Linked DNA regions of Homo sapiens: region 2 is linked to region 1. Evidence: fine-mapped expression QTL. Tissue or cell type: lung. Region 1 holds a variant in brackets; the other region holds the start of a gene. All regions are shown on one strand. Distances are from middle to middle.

The links. PIP is the estimated chance that this variant, and not a neighbour inherited with it, causes the effect.
Region 2: it holds the start of PTGR1, and the variant in region 1 is fine-mapped to the expression of PTGR1 in lung (TOPMed, PIP 0.92).

What each region holds. Positions count from the first base shown.
Region 1 is chr9:111,561,423-111,569,422 of GRCh38, forward strand. PTGR1 (prostaglandin reductase 1) reads right to left here. Exons shown (of 10, transcript NM_001146108.2): 10 at 1,145-1,809. The coding sequence ends at 1,699. It also overlaps a transcript of ZNF483 not described here. Among named protein-coding and RNA genes, the nearest start is that of PTGR1, 34 kb to the right of the region's middle. The variant T/A (reference allele first, on the strand shown) is at 4,786.
Region 2 is chr9:111,595,644-111,603,767 of GRCh38, forward strand. PTGR1 (prostaglandin reductase 1) reads right to left here and starts at 4,004. Exons shown (of 10, transcript NM_001146108.2): 1 at 3,960-4,004; 2 at 1,674-1,789. The coding sequence starts at 1,779. It also overlaps the pseudogene LRRC37A5P. RefSeq lists an enhancer at 3,855-4,427.

The DNA.
Region 1 (8,000 bases):
ACACCATGCCCAGCTAATTTGAAAATTTTTTGCAGATGTGGGGTATTGTCCAGTCTGGTCTCAAACTCCTGGACTCAAATGATCTCACCTTAGCCTCCCAAAGAGCTGGGATTACAGGTGTGAGCCACTATGCCTGGCCCTTCAGTAATGTTTTAAGTTTTTCTTCATATAAATCTTGCACATTTTTGTAGATGTATAGACATTCCTGTGTGTTATCTTTTGTGCAGCTCTGTGAATGACAGATTCCTTCTTTGGTGTGTTGAATAATTAGACTCATCTGTAGAGGACCAGTATGGACTGGCCCTAAGACCCCTATATGCCTGCAGTGATTATTTCTTCTGGCATAATCACAAGCAATAGGGGTGGTAATCTTAAGACTTCAAAATCACTGATATCGGCAGGGAGGTAGCTAACACTTACCTAATATATGCCAGGCATTATGCTGTTGTTTTTTTGTTTTGTTTTGTTTTGTTTTTTTCTGAGATGGAGTTTTGCTCTTGTTGCCCAGGCTGGAGTGCAATGGCACAATATCGGCTCACTGCAACGTCTGCCTCCTGGGCTCAAGCGATTTTCCTGCCTCAGCCTCTTGAGTAGCTGGGATTACAGGCACCCGCTACCATGCCCAGCTAATTTTTGTATTTTTAGTAGAGACAGGGTCTTGCCATGTTGGCCAGGCTGGTCTTGAACTCCTGACCTCGCCTCCGCCTCCAAAAGTGCTGGGATTACAAACGTGAGCCACCGCGCCCGGCCTATGCTGGTGTTTTAAATAAATGTATAACATGTATATGAAAGATGTTATTATCCTCACTTTAAAGATGAAAAATCAGAAGTCTAAGGTCACAGAAGCAGTAAACTTTTTTTTTTTTTTTTTGAGATAGAGTCTCGCTCTGTCACCCAGGCTGGAGTACAGTGGCGCAATCTCAGCTCACTGAAACTTCCGCCTCCCAGGTTCAAGTGAGTCTCCTGTCTCAGCCTCCCAAGAGGCTGGGATTACAGGCATGTGCCACCACACTCAGCTAATTTTTGTATTTTCAGTAGAGACGGTGTTTCACCATGTTGGTCAGGCTGGTCTTGCACTGCTGACCTCGTGATCTGCCCACCTCAGCCTCCCAAAGTGCTGGAATTACAGGCATGAGCCACCACGCCCGGCTAACTTTTTTTTTTAATTTAATTTTATTTTATTTTCAGTTCCGGGATAATTGTGTGGAATGTGCAGGTTTGTTACATAGGTAAACGTGTGCCATGATGGTTTGCTTCACCTGTCAACCCATCACCTAGGTATTAGCCCCCGAAGGCATTAGCTATTTATCCTGATGCTCTCCCTCCCTCACCCCGGCTTCCACAGGCCCCAGCGTGTGTTGTTCCCCTCCCTATGTCCATGTGTTCTCATTGTTCAGCTCCCACTTATGAATGAAAACATACAGTGTTTGGAAAATTTTCACACTTCAAAGCCATTATTTTCTACCACAACTCAGAAGAAGCTGTAGTGAACAGTGAGGTGACTGGTTGTTGTTGACTTTGAAACTTCCATCCTCCATCACTAATTACATACCACTTAAATGTATTTTATTAAGTAGCTCAAACTCATTATGAGTACTATTTCTTAAGACATTTAAGGTAGTATACATTTTTGCTAAATGGTGAAAAACAAATTAACTAATCATCTAAATGGCCTCCAGATTCCATGTGTCCTCTTTTTCATGCTTTCACTATTGTCTTCCCCAAATTATCTCCTTTCAGCATTCCCATAAATGCAGCTGGCATGTTTTCAAATCCTTCAATGATATATTCCTTGTACTGGATTTTACCCTGTATCAAAGCAACAACAAATTTTAAAACTTAATTTAATATTCTCAATGATATACTGTTCTCATCCTAGCAACAAATTTATCAGGTACATCATTGGAAACCTTGAAAATAAGAGATGGAAGTCCTGTCCTCCATGAACTTGAAGTCAAGGTGGGGCAAGATCCACTTACACAGTACATGTAAAAAAGATTACAAAGTACACCTAAGAAGAAATAATAGGTGTCGGATCATAGTGCGAAATGTCATAAGGCAGTGATTAAGCAATCTCTTTTTCTTTCTTTTTTTTTTTTTTGAGACAGAGTCTCGCTCTGTTGCCCAGGCTGGAGTGCAGTGCCGCGATCTTGGCTCACTGCAAGCTCCGCCTCCCAGGTTCATGCCATTCTCCTGCCTCAGCCTCCCGACTAGCTGGGACTACAGGTGCTCACCACCATGCCCGGCTAATTGTTTTGTATTTTTAGTAGGGACAGGGCTTCACCGTGTTAGCCAGGATGGTCTCGATCTCCTGACCTCGTGATCTGCCTGCCTCGGCCTCCCAAAGTGCTGGGATTACAGGCGTGAGCCACCGTGCCCAGAGCGATTAAGCAATTTCTAAATAAGATGCATAGTAAAGTTTAATAACACAATGATCTCAGAGGAGGTACAAATAGACAGAGAAAAGAGCACCCTTCATTACCTCTGGCCCCTGAAGAGGCAGGTCCTATTCAGGAAATATAAATGGCAGGACAGTCTAATAATCTGTCTCCCCTTTAAGCCAAGGTTCTTTTAACATGTGTTTAACCTTTATCTGGGAGTGTGGGAAGGAAGGGTTCATGTTAGTGAGAAAGGGTCTTCATTTCTCTTTCTCCTACAAGGCACAGCCTACTAATGGGAACTAATTTACATTTTCAGATTTTTTTAAGGGGTCTTATATAGAGACCTGAGTTACCTGATACAAGTTTTTCGCTAATGTATTCCAGTGATGGCTTAGCACTCTTCATGGATTTATAGACAAGATTATTTGCTTGAAGTCAGTCAATTACAAAGTAGGGAAGCTGAAATTTAAACTTTTATTATTATTATTATTATTATTATTATTATTATTATTATTATTCTGAGACAGGGTCTCACTCTGTCACCTAGGTTTGAGTGCAGTGGCACAATCATAGCTCACTGCAGTCTCAACCTCCTGGGCTCCAGTGATCCTTCTGCCTCAGCCTCCTGAGTAGCTGGGACTACAGGGATGTGCCACCATGCCCAGCTAATTTTTTTAGTTTTTGTAGAGACGGGGTCTTGCTAGGTTGCCCAGGTTGGTCTCAAAGGCCTAGGCTCAAGTGATCCGCCCACCTCAGCCTCCCAAAGTGCTAGGATTACAGGCATGAGCCACTGCGCCTGGCTGAGATTTGAACTTTTGACTTGAAAGCCCCAACTCATTCTTATTCTTGAAGAAGCAAGGAATCTGGATAGGGTGGAAAGGTAGAATCCAGTTCAGAGGTTATAAATAGAGAACGAATACTGTTATGGACTGAATTGTATGCCCCCAATCCAAATCCATATGTTTAAGTCCTAATCACCAGTGCCTGACAATGGGACTATATTTGGAGATAGGGCTTTTTAAAAAAAGGTAATTAAGAGGCCGGGCGCAGTGGCTCATGTCTGTAATCCCAGCACTTTGGGAGGCTGAGGCGGGTGGATCACCCGAGGTCAGGAGTTCGAGACCAGCCTGGCCAACATGGTGAAACCCTGTCTCTACTAAAAATACGAAAATTAGCCAGGCGTGGTGGCGTGTACCTGTAATCCCAGCTAGTCAGGAGGCTGAGGCAGAAGAATCACATGAACCCGGCAGGCGGAGGTTGCAGTGAACGGAGATCGCACCATTGCACCCCAGCCTGGGCAACAAGAGCAAAACTCCATCTCAAAAAAAAAAGTACTTAAGGTAAAACAAAGTCACACAGGTGGGCCTTAATCAATATGACTGGTGTGCTTATAAGGAGGTTAGGACATAGACACACAGAGAGAAGGCCACGTGAAGATGCAGGGAAAAGGAAGCCATCTACAAGTTGAAAAGAGAGAGGCCTGCAAAGAAACAACCCTGCTGACACCTTGATCTTAGACTTCTAGCCTCCAGAACTGTGAGAAAATAAGTTTGTTGTTTAAGCCACCCAGTCTGTGGTACTTTATTTTGGTAGACCTAACAAACTAATACAAATACTAATGTAAAATGTTAATAATAGGGGAAATTAGGGTATAGGATGCAGGGTATATGGGAGCTCTCTGTACTATCTTCCCAATTTTCCTATAAATCTAAAACTTCTATTTTTATTTTTGTTTTTGAGACAGGGTCTTGCTCTATTGCCAAGGCTGGAGGACAGTGGCACATTCAGAGTTCACTGCAGCCCTTGAACTCTTGGACTCAGGTGATCCTCCCACCTCAGCCTCCCGAGTAGCTGGGACTACAGGTGTGCACCACTGCACCCAGCTAATTTTTTAACTTTTTGTTTTTTGTAGAGTCTCATTATGTTGCCAGGGCTGGTCTTGGACTCCTGGGCTCAAGCAGTCCTCCTGCCTCACCCTCCTAAAGTGCTGGGATTATAGCTATGAGCCACCGCACCCAGCCTAAAACTTTTCTAAAATAAAAAGTGAATTTTAAAAAATAGGGAATGAGATTAAAAAGGGAGTATGTGAAAGAAATTAGGCCAACTCACGACTTAAAACCCACTAGGGCTGGGCGCGGTGGCTCACACGTATAATTCGAGCACTTTGTGAGGCTGAGGCAGGAGAATCACTTGAGGTCAGGAGTTCAAGACAAGCCTGGCCAACATCGTGAAACCCCATCTCTACTAAAAATAGCCGAGAATGGTGGCGGGCACCTGTAATCCCAGCTACTTGGGAGGCTGAAGTGGGAGAATCACTCGAACCCAGGAAGTAGAGGTTGCAGTGAGCTGAGATCGCGCCACTGCACTCCAGCCTGGACGACAGAGTGAGCCTCCATGTCAAAAA[T/A]AAATAAATAAATAAATAAATAAACACCTAACTAACTATGATCAGCTTCACTTTGTTAGAGGGAAGCACTGGGGACACCAGCACAGTGGTTTCCTGTTGTCAACTGTGATCACAGATGGGTTACATTAGATTTCACCAACTGGGACAACTTAGATTCAGCTCCCTGGTGACAGCCCAGCCCGGCACTGCAAGTGCTATACTGGGAAGAGTGCCAAGCTCCAGTGGCTGCTGGAGGAGCAATCTATTCTTTGGAATTGGGAAATGATCATTGGCCAGGGATTAGGAAACATGATGTCATTTTTCCCCTGTAAAACTAAAATAATGCAACTTGATTGTTCAGATTTCTGTTGACTAAAACTTACATGGTGTAAGGTTTGAAAATTATCACAGCACAGGACTAAGGGATTGTCTTATTTGCTACTTGGGACCTGGAAGAGCTGTGGCACATGTATGCACCCCTCTAACATTCATTTATTCAGCAATATTTATTCAGTGCCTACATTGCTTCATATACTATTCTGGGGGCTGGAGATACACCAGAAAGCAAAATGTATGAATATGCTGTCTTCATGGAGGTTACATCCTCAAGAAGGGAGATGTGCAATAAATATAAATGAATAAGTAAATTATAGTATATATTATGTTAAAAGATGATTAATTGCTATGGATAAAAGTAGGATAGGAGCCTGGGCAACATGGTGAAAGCCCTTCTCTACGAAAAACACAAAAAAACTAGCCAGGTGTGGTGGCACATGACTGTTGTCCCAGCTACTCAGGAGGTTGAGGTGGGAGAATCCCCTGAGCCTGGGTCAAGGCTGTGGTGAGCCATGATCACGGCACTGCACTCCAGCCTGGGTGTCTGAGACCCTGTCTCAAAAAAAAAAAACAAAAAAAGTCGGGGGGCGTGGGATATGGAGGATCAAGAATGAAGAGGGAATGCAACTTAAAATAGGGCCATTTAAAAACTTGCCTCACCTGGAAGGCACTTTTTGTTTTTTTGAGATGGAGTTGTACTCTGTCACTGTGCTGGAGTGCAGTGGCACGATCTTGACTCACTGCAACCTCCGCCTCCCAGGTTCAAGCGATTCTCCTGCCTCAGCCTCCCAAGTAGCTGGGACTATAGGTGCACGCCACCATGCCCAGCTAATTTTTGTATTTTTAGTAGAGACAGGGTTTCACCATGTTGGTCAGATGGTCTCGATCTCTTGACCTTGTGATCCACCTGCCTTGGCCTCCCAAAGTGCTGGGATTACAAGTGTGAACCACCGTGCCAGTCCAGACGGCACTTTTTAGCAAAGGCTTGCAGGACGTGAGAGAATTCAGCAAGCAGTTACAGAGGGGTGGAGGAGACTGGGCCAAGTAAATAAGAGGATGAATACTAAGAAATGAAATCAGAGAGATATCAGGGGTCAGATTTTGTGTAAGCTTACTGAATATTAGCACTTTGGTTTACTTTAAGTGAAATGCAGAGCTTTGCATGGTTTGGATCATAAGAACGGCAGGATTTGATTTGTGCCTTAACAGATCGCTATGGCCACCACATTGGGAATTGTCTATAGGGATGCAAAGATGGGAGGCCAGGTAGAGTCCACTACTGTTGCGGGAAGTCAGGGACCCCAAACGGAGGGACTGGCTGGAGCCATGGCAGAGGAACATAAATTGTGAAGATTTCATTTTAATATGGACATTTATCAGTTCCCAAATTAATACTTTTATAATTTCTTACGCCTGTCTTACTTTAATCTCTTAATCCTGTTATCTTTGTAAGCTGAGGATGTATGTCACCTCAGGACCACTGTGATAATTGTGTTAACTGTACAAATTGATTGTAAAACATGTATTTGAACAATATGAAATCAGTGCATCTTGAAAAAGAACAGAATAACAGCGATTTTCAGGGAACAAGGGAAGACAACCATAAGGTCTAACTGCCTGCGGGGTTGGGAAAAACACAGCCATATTTTTCTTGTTGCAGAGAGCCTATAAATGGATGTGCAAGTAGGGAAGATATTGCTAAATTCTTTTCCTAGCAAGGAATATTAATAATTAATATCCTGGGGAAGGAATGCATTCCTGGGGGAGGTCTATAAATGGCTGCTCTGGGAGTGTCTGTCTTATGCATTTGAGATAAGCACTGAAATACGCCCTGATCTCCTGCAGTACCCTCAGGCTTATTAGGGTGGGGGAAAAACTCCGCCCTGGTAAATTTGTGGTCAGACTGGTTCTCTGCTTTCGAACCCTGTTTTCTGTTGTTGAAGATGTTTATCAAGACAATATGTGCACAGTGAACATAGACCCTTATCAGTAATTCTGATTTTGCCCTTGTCCTGTTTCCTCAGAAGCATGTGATCTTTGTTCTGCCTTTTGCCCTTTGAAGCATGTGATCTTTGTGACCTACTCCCTGTTCGTACACCCCCTCCCCTTTTAAAATCCTTAATAAAAACTTGCTGGTTTTGTGGCTCAGGTGGGTATCACGGTCCTACTGATATGTGGTGTCGCCCCCAGCAGCCCAGCTGTAAAATTCCTCTCTTTGTACTCTTTCTCTTTATTTCTCAGCCAGCCAACACTTATGAAAAATAGAAAGAACCTATGTTGAAATATTGGGGGCAGGTTCCCCCGATACACTACAAGCATCCAGGCTAGAAGGCATGGTGCCTGGACCAGGGTGGTAGCAGGGAGGTGGGAGAAGTGTTCAGATTCTGTATATATTTTGAAGATAGAACCACCAGAATCTCCTTAGAGATTAGACATGGGTACGACAGAAAGACATCAAAGATGACCAAGGCTTTTGGATTGAGAAACTAGAAGTATAGAATTGTTATAACTGAGATAGTAAAGTCTGAATATGGAGCATGTTGAGCAGGAAAGATCAAAATATATTTAGTTTTCAAGATGTTATGTCAGAGATGTGTATCAGGCATCCAGGTGGACATACTAGCCTAGAGTTAAGAGGAGAGCCAGGCTGGAGATAGAGATGGGAACTCCCAGCATACTGAGCCCAGACGAGCTAACTAAGGGATAGCTCAAGCGTAGATAGAGAAGAGCAAAGTCCCAGTGACCATGACCTGGGGCACTCTAATATTAATTTGGAGTAAAGAAAAGCTAGCAAGAGTCTGAGGAGGACCAATCAGTGAGGAAAACCAAGAGTTAAGGGAAGCCAAGGGAAGAAAGCATATCAAGGAGAGAATGATCACTATGAAATATTTCCCATAGCC
Region 2 (8,124 bases), 34 kb after region 1:
TTTTTTTTGAGATGGAGTCTTGCTCTGTCGCCCAGGCTGGAGTGCAGTGGCGCGATCTTGGCTCACTGCAATCTCCACCTCCCGGGTTCATGCTATTCTCCTGCCTCAGCCTCCCAAATAGCTGGGAGTACAGGTGCTCACCACCACACCCAGCTAATTTTTTGTATTTTTAGTAGAGATGGGGTTTCACTGTGTTAGCCAGGATGGTCTCGATCTCCTGACCTTGTGATCTGCCTGCCTCAGCCTCCCAAAGTTCTGGGATTACAGGTGTGAGCCGCCACACCCAGCCGAGACTCATCTTATAGTCTGAACTCTTCGTATAGCTACTGGGCAGTGCTTACCTCACTGCCATCATCAGGCTTATGAGGATAGAGAGGACATCCTCCCCATAGTCTGGTCAAAGCCATGAAGAGTAATGCACTCAAGCATGAATTTCAGTTATCAATGAAAGCAGGGGAATCCTGCCATGTGACATCGAGGATTCACACTGAGAACCCTGGAAAGGTCTTTGTGGCAGATTGCAAAATGGCCACAAATAACTCCCACCCTTGTGTGCTTGTCTCCTTGCCACTTCTCCCATCAAGAAATCTATTTTCTGCCTCTCGAATCTGAGCTTGGTTTTGTGATTTGCTTTGACCATGGGATATTAGCAAACGTGGCACAAGTAGAGGCTTGAAAAGGGCTTGCACAGCGGGGCATGGTGGCTCACACCTTTAATCCCAGCACTTTGGGAGGTCAAGGCGGGCTGATCATCTAAGGTCAGGAGTTCAAGACCAGCCTGGCAAAGATGGGAAACCCCGTCTCTACTAAAAATGCAAACATTAAGGCCGGGCACTGTGGCTCACGCCTGTAATCCCAGCACTTTGGGAGGCCGAGGCAGGTGGATCACCTGAAGTCAGGAGTTCGAGACCAGCCTGGCCAACACAGTGAAACTCCATCTCTACTAAAAATACAAAAAAAAAAAAAAATTAGCCGGGCGTGTTGGTGGGCGCCTGTAATCCCAGCTACTCAGGTGGCTGAGGCAGGGAGAATTGCTTGAACCTGGGAGGCAAAGGTTGCAGTGAGCCGAGATTGCTCCACTGCAATCCAGCCTGGGTGACAGAGCAAGACTCCATCTCAGAAAAAATACAAAAATTAGGGGGGCATGGTGGCGCACACCTGTAATCCCAGCTACTCAGGAGGCTGAGGCAAGAGAATCGCTTGGACCCAGAAGGCAGAGGTTGCAGTGAGCCAAAATCATGCCACTGCACTCCAACCTGGGCAACAGAGCAAGACTCTGTCTCAAAAAAAAAAAAAAAAAAAAAAGAGAAAGTGCTTGCACATTGGAGCTTGCCAACTACTGCTGCTCTAGATCTATGGGGCCACTATAAGAATAGAGCTCAAGCTAGCCTGCTAGAAAGGCCACATAGATGAGAACTAAGGCATGCACCCCAACAGAAAGCCTGCTAATCAGCAGACATGTGAGCAAGGCCCATCCTAAATTAACCATTTACCCCAGATGAGACCTAAGAAGAACCACCCAGCTTAACTCAGCCCAAATTGCCAACCCAAAGAATTGTGAACTAATAAACCGTTGTTGCTTAAAGTCACTAAACTTTGGGGTAGTTTGTTATGCAGCAAAAGCTAACTGATACAGTCCCTTCCAACTCTGAAATATTTTTAGTATGACTTACCTCCATTTTTTAAGGGTGGGAGCTCAGCTGTCTTCAACTCAAAGTCACTATTAGTAGGATAGCCAACAAAGTGCTTCTTCAGGGTCCATGTCTTAGTACGAACCATCCTGAAGCTCCTAGAACACAGTAAATATGTAGTCAACTGCCATGAAGTGACTGCATTCTAACAGTTCTCTAGCCGTCAAACTGAGACCAGACAGCACAATTACAATATCCTCAAATCCCATCATTATCATATCATGCCAACCACATTCATTTAACATTTACTATGTTTCTGGTGCTGTGCTAAGCACTTCATATAGATTACCTCATTTTATCCTTATAACTTCCCTATAAGATAGACATTAGTATCATTGCCAGTGTACGGATGAGGAAACTGAGGTTTAAAGAAATCTTCAAGACAAGGAAAAAATATAAAACAACAAAGAAATTCTTCCCAGCCACTGCTAGGCTAGAGTTTCTCTACGGCACTGAACAGTTACCGGAAGTGCGAATATTCCATTCCGTTTCTCATCTCACATGGAGTGAATTCTAAGAAAAAGCATCAAACACAAAGAACCCAATAGATAGAAGTCCATGCACCTCTTTCAGATGGAAACAGCCACGCATTTCAAGGCAGTCTCAGAACTCCTGAAAACCACCGGAGGGCGCCGCTGCTCCGCCCCATTTTCAGGTGCGTTTTTTTTTTTTTTAAATACTTTTTTTTCTCTCTTTTCTTGTAGAGAGGAGCCTCACTGTGTTGCCTAGGCGATCCGCCCGCCTCGGTCTCCCAAAGTGCTGGGATTACAGGTGTGAACCACTTGCACTCAGCCATCGGGTGCGAATTTTCTTTGGCCCAGTAGGGATTTGAGTTTAAACTCCACACCAAACCGATTTTGAGCTGAAACGCTGCACCAAAGCAAGGGAAGATGATGAAGGCTGCCCCGAGCTGGGGGTTCAGGATGTTCTGCTTGGACTGAACTCTGCCGAATCACTTGGGACCTGCGCCTTCCCGCGGGTGCATCCGCTACAAACAATCCAGTTACGAAACCATTTGGAGCTGCCAGTGATCTCCCCAGCTCCCCTACCGGTGCCGCGGGAGGGGACACGGTGACCTGGAGGGAGCACTCCCGCATTGCGAGGGAGCCAGGGGGGCGGTCTGATCTGCAGCCCGGGGTTGTTCCTTCTTTTCTTTTTTTAAAATTAAGACTTTTTTTGTGACGGAGTCTCGCTCTGTCGCCCAGGCTGAAGTGCAATGGCGCGATCTCAGCTCACTGCAACCTCCGTCTCCCGGGTTCAAGCGGTTCTCCTGTCTCAGCCTCCTGAGTAGCTGGGATTACAGGCGCCCGCCACCACGCCCAGCTAATTTTTGTACTTTTAGTAGAGACGGGGTTTCCCCATGTTGGCCAGACTGGTCTAGAACTCCTGAGCTCAAATGATTCGCCCGCCTCGACCTTCCATAGTGCTGGGATTACAGGCGTGAGCCACCGCGCCAGGCCCTACGTATCATTTTTACGGTGAGACATTTGCAGTTTACTCTGTTATTTCGAAATACACATTATTGGCTCTAGTCACTCTGCTGTGCAACAGATCTCAGAACCTACTCCTCTCGTCTCTGAACTTCGTACCCTTTGGCCAACAAGCCCCCATTCCCCCCCGAACCCGCTCCCAGCCTCTGGCAACCATCATTCTAGTCGTTATTTCTATGAGTTCAACTTCTTTAGAGTTCACACATCTTTGTCCCTTTCCCCAAAAAAGCAACCGCTGGGCTTCCAAACTCGCTACAAGTCCAGAAGCCCTCCTGGAAAGGGTCTGGCCGCAGAGGGGCCAGGTCCCGGGAAAGTCTCGCCCGCCCGAGGAGGGGGCCTGGCGCGGCGCCCGGCCTTTGCCCGCTCGCCCTTTGCTCCCACCCTCGCCTCCCGCCGCCCGCCGCCCGCTTGCCCATTCCCGAATCCCCACCCCGATCTTTCTTCTTCTACCCTCCCCCAGTTGTGCAGTCCAGCAAGTTCCCTGGCCAGCCCCCTCCCGGGTGCAGGAAGCTACCGGGTGTCCCGGGTTGTAACCAAGCTTTCCTATTCCCTCCGGCGCGCGGCTCCAAGCTCTCCAAGGAACTGCGGGGGCGGGAGGCGTCGGGACGTCGGCTCCCAAGATCCTCCGAGTGCAAGACCCAGCGGTCATTTCGACGTAAGGGGAGGAGGTCTAAGAGCAAACCTCCTCCACTGGGGCGTCTAGAAACTTGGCAGGAAGAAAGCAAGGGGGTTAGAGGAGGGAGAAAAGGGAAGGAAAGAAAGCAGGAGGTCTACTTACAGGAGCCCGAAGGTTCCACTGCCTGGGGAAGGCGGCTGGGACTGCGCAGCCGGGCGCCCGGGGTCCGACTTATGACAGGTCCCAAGAGAGGGTGGGGCCACCCCAGGGCGGGGCTGCTTCTTTAGGGTGAGAGCCCGGCCCCGAAAGGGTCACAGGAGGAAAACCAGGGTCCGGGAAATCTGAGTGCGTTTGTGTGTGTGTGTGCGCGTATCTCTGTGTGCCTATGTGCATGTGCGCGCGCGTATGTGTGCATGTGTGCGTGTGTGTGCGTGCGCGCCCGCGCGCCCGTGTGTGTGCGTGTAGGGGGTTAGGGACTCCTGATAGGAAAATTCCTAACAGAGCTTTGTCCAGCTGACACTGGACCTCCGCCTGGGGTCCTAAGTTGGAGCCCGGCGGAAATATGCCCCGTGGGGGAACCAACCGTGGCATCTGCCAAGCAGGCCGGAAGGGTCCAAAGGCAGGGCCTGGGGCGGCCGCAGCCCTAATAAGCCCCCGGTGCTGGCTCCGATCCCTGGGCTCCCCGTCAGCCCTGCCGCTTGCCCGCAGTGCAAGCTTTCGCCCAGGGCTGCGGTGCAGACACCCTGCCTGTCTGTCCCCAGTCCGCCTGCTGAACACCTACTCGCCTTCCACCAGCCAATTCAAGGTCACCTCTGTGAACCCTTGCCAGACTCCCCCAGGCAGGAGTGAGCACTCTTGCCACTGAGGCACCCCACCCATCACACCCTAGCAAACATCAGGCCTTGACCTGGCTTCTGCAAGGAGAGGTGGTCTCAGGCAGGGGTTGAACGTGAAGCTAAGTCGTTGGTATTAGACGACTGCAGGTTCGAAGCCTGCACCTGCCACTTACTAGTGGTGTAGCTTTCAAAGACTTACTTACCTTCTCCTTGCCTCACTCAGTTCAGCCATCTGCAAGATGGGGATAAGAAGAATGCCTAACTTCCAGTCATTGTGAAGATTCAATGTCTTTAATTTATTTATTTAATTTTAATTATTTTGAGGTCTTGCTCTGTCACCCAGGCTGGAGTGCAATGGTGGGCATCATAGCTCATTGCAGCCTTGAACTCCTGGACTCAGGTGATCCTCCTTCAGCCTCCCTAGAAGCTGGGATTACAGGCCCACCACCACACCTGGCTCAATGTCTCTCCTTGTAAGGATACCCGCCATATTGGATTAGAGCCCCACTTGTCAGCCTCCGTTTAACTTAAACACGTCTTTGAAGGCCTTGTCTTCAAATACTGTCAAATGGATTAGGGCTCACTAATATGGCCTCATGTAACCTTAATTACCTCTTTAAAGGCCCTATCTACAAATACAGTTACATTCTGAGTACTGGGACTTGGGGATTTTAACACATGAAATTGGGGAAGACACAGTTCAGCCCATAACAGAGTGTGTGGACCAAGCGTGGTGGACGCATGCCACAGGATATACACAGCATCAGAAGCACTGGGTTCCATGTACATAAAGCAACTTGGATGGACCCTAAAAACACAATGCCGAGAGTTGAATTCTTCACACTAATCAGAGTTGGTGGCACTTTATCCCCACTGGTCTGCCAAATTCTTTCTTTCTCACTCTCTCCCTTCTCATTAATTTATGTAACTTAATATAAAACAAAACTCCATTCCCAGGCTGGGTGCTGTGGCTCATGCCTGTAATCCTAGCACTTTTGGAGTCTGAGACAAAAGGACCACTTGAGGCCAAGCATTCAAGACTTGCGTGGGCAACATAGCTTTAACCTGGGAGGTGGAGGCTGCAGCGAGCTGCGATCGTGGCACTGCACTCTAGACTGGGTGTCTAAGTGAGATCCCGTCTCAAAAGAAAACCAAAAAAACTCAATTTCCTGCTTTTCTCCTCCTACTATAGGTAACTACTGTGATGTATTTGATTTGCATACAGTTTTTTTTTCCATGTTCTTACATAATGTGCACTGTGGTCATATACATTTAATTTATAGAAACGGTATTGGGTTACATATCGCATTCTGCTTCTCTCTTTTTTTTTTCTTTTAAGATAACTTGTTACAGAATCACTGTTTCTTTTGGATATTAGAAGTGTTAATAAAATTGCAGGCATAAAAAGTCTTTGCAAAGTAAGAATAAGAGAAAAAAGTGCCAGAAACACAGAGTGGCTCACATATTTACTCACTTGTCCTTAAATTGAAGATACAGATAAGATTGGGCCGCACCAGGTCAAACAAAATCTGTTTCCCAAACTTGATGACTCAGTCAGTCTCAAAGGCTGCAGCTTGTCAAGTCATGGTGATTAAGTTAAATCACGGCTGTTACATACTCGCACACAGAGAGTTAGAATATGGAATAAAGGATCAAGGAAAAAGATTTTCCTTTGCTTTACCCCAAGACAAAACTCTACTCAATTCAGTTCTCTGATCTTAGGTTTCAATGAGTTCTGATCTAACTGTGGAGGGAACAGTTCACTTAAAACAATAAAGCAGTAACAAACAAGTAATTAAAAAATGCTTTTTTATCAAATAATTCAGATGATACAGATGTGTACGCTATAAAAAGCAAAAGTCATTGTTATCTGTTTGGTGGAAATTTCTTTTGGATTTTTTTTTTGTACTTCAAAAACAGACAGACTTAGTCAGGGGTGGTGGCTCATGCCTATAATCCCAGCACTTTGGGAGGCCAAGGCGGGTGGATCACTTGATGTCAGAAGTTCGAGACCAGCCTGGCCAACATGGTGAAACCCCATCCCTACTAAAACTACAAAAATTAGCTGGGCATGGTGGCGGGCGTCTGTAGTCCCAGCTCCTTGGGAGGCTGAGGCTGGAGAATCACTTGAATACAGGAGGTGGAGGTTGCAGTGAGGCAAGATCATGCCACTGCACTCCAGCCTGGGCGACAGAGCAAGACTCTTTCTCAAAAACAAACAAACAAACAAACAAAAACAGACAGATTTGTCCCCCACTTTTTTCTCTACAACTTCCATTTCATTGGTCTGGTGGGATAATGCTTGAGAAATAATTATAACAACAAACAGTAATATTTGTCTCATAATTGCAGGAATTCCTGAATATATGTGGGACACTGCGTTTGAAGAGATAGTGATTATCCTCTCTGCACAGCACAGAGGAGATGCAATCTTGCACTAGAATAGCCCTTGGTATCCAGTATTTCTAGTCCTCATGATGACCCAAGGAGGGGTCATCAACAGGTTTGCATGCCCACTGCATAGTATAGACCAATTACACTAAGACAGCAGGGATGCAGCAAAGAAAGAGTTTAATGATCACAGGCCACCCAGCAAGGAAGTGGAAGGAAACCCTCAAATCTGTCTCCCAAGAAGTTCTGGCCTGGGGCTTTAAGAGGATTGTGGAGAGTGAGGGGCTGGAAAATTGGGGTTGCTGGTCGGTTGGGGCAAGGGGGATAAAATCATCGCAAAGTGGAAACTGTATTTTTTGATGAGGTAGCTCCTCGGGGAGTCCTTCAGGACAGCTGCATCAGTGTGGTCCTTCAGCTGACATCAGTAGTTTCTTCCATATCAGGACCTGAAGGAATATCTCAAAGTGAAAACAACATTTCATAATGTTCGAGTTGCTATTTAAAGAGCAGTTAAGGTGAACTATAATCTTGTAACTGGGTCTAGTGATTCTAGAACAATAGGCACCAAAGTGTGAGGAAGCAGATGGGAGAGTGTGCCGAGTTAATCATGAATGCTGAACCTGCTGCCAGCTTGGTTTGTTTTTGTTTCTCCCTCCCTCCCTTCTTTCCTGATTAATTTTATGTATTTTTTGAGATGGAGTCTTGCTCTGTCTCCCAGGCTGGGGTGCAGTGGCATGATTTTGGCTCACTGCAACCTCTACCTCCCGGGTTCAAGGAATTCTCCTGTCTCAGCCTCCTGAGTAGCTGGGCCTACAGGCACACACCACCACGCCAGGCTAATTTTTGTATTTTTAGTAGAGACAGAGTTTCACTATATTGGTCAGGCTGGTCGTGAACTCCTGACCTCAGGTGATCCACCCGCCTCAGCCTCCCAAAGTCCTGGGATTACAGGTGTGAGCCACCGTGCCCGGCCTAATTTTATAAAGTTTATAGGGGCAGTTTCAGAAGCAAATATTACCATCATCTTCCTTGGAGCCTCAGGAAACTGAAAGTCTGAGAGGTAAAACAACGTAGACAAGATCACATAGCTAGTCAGTAGC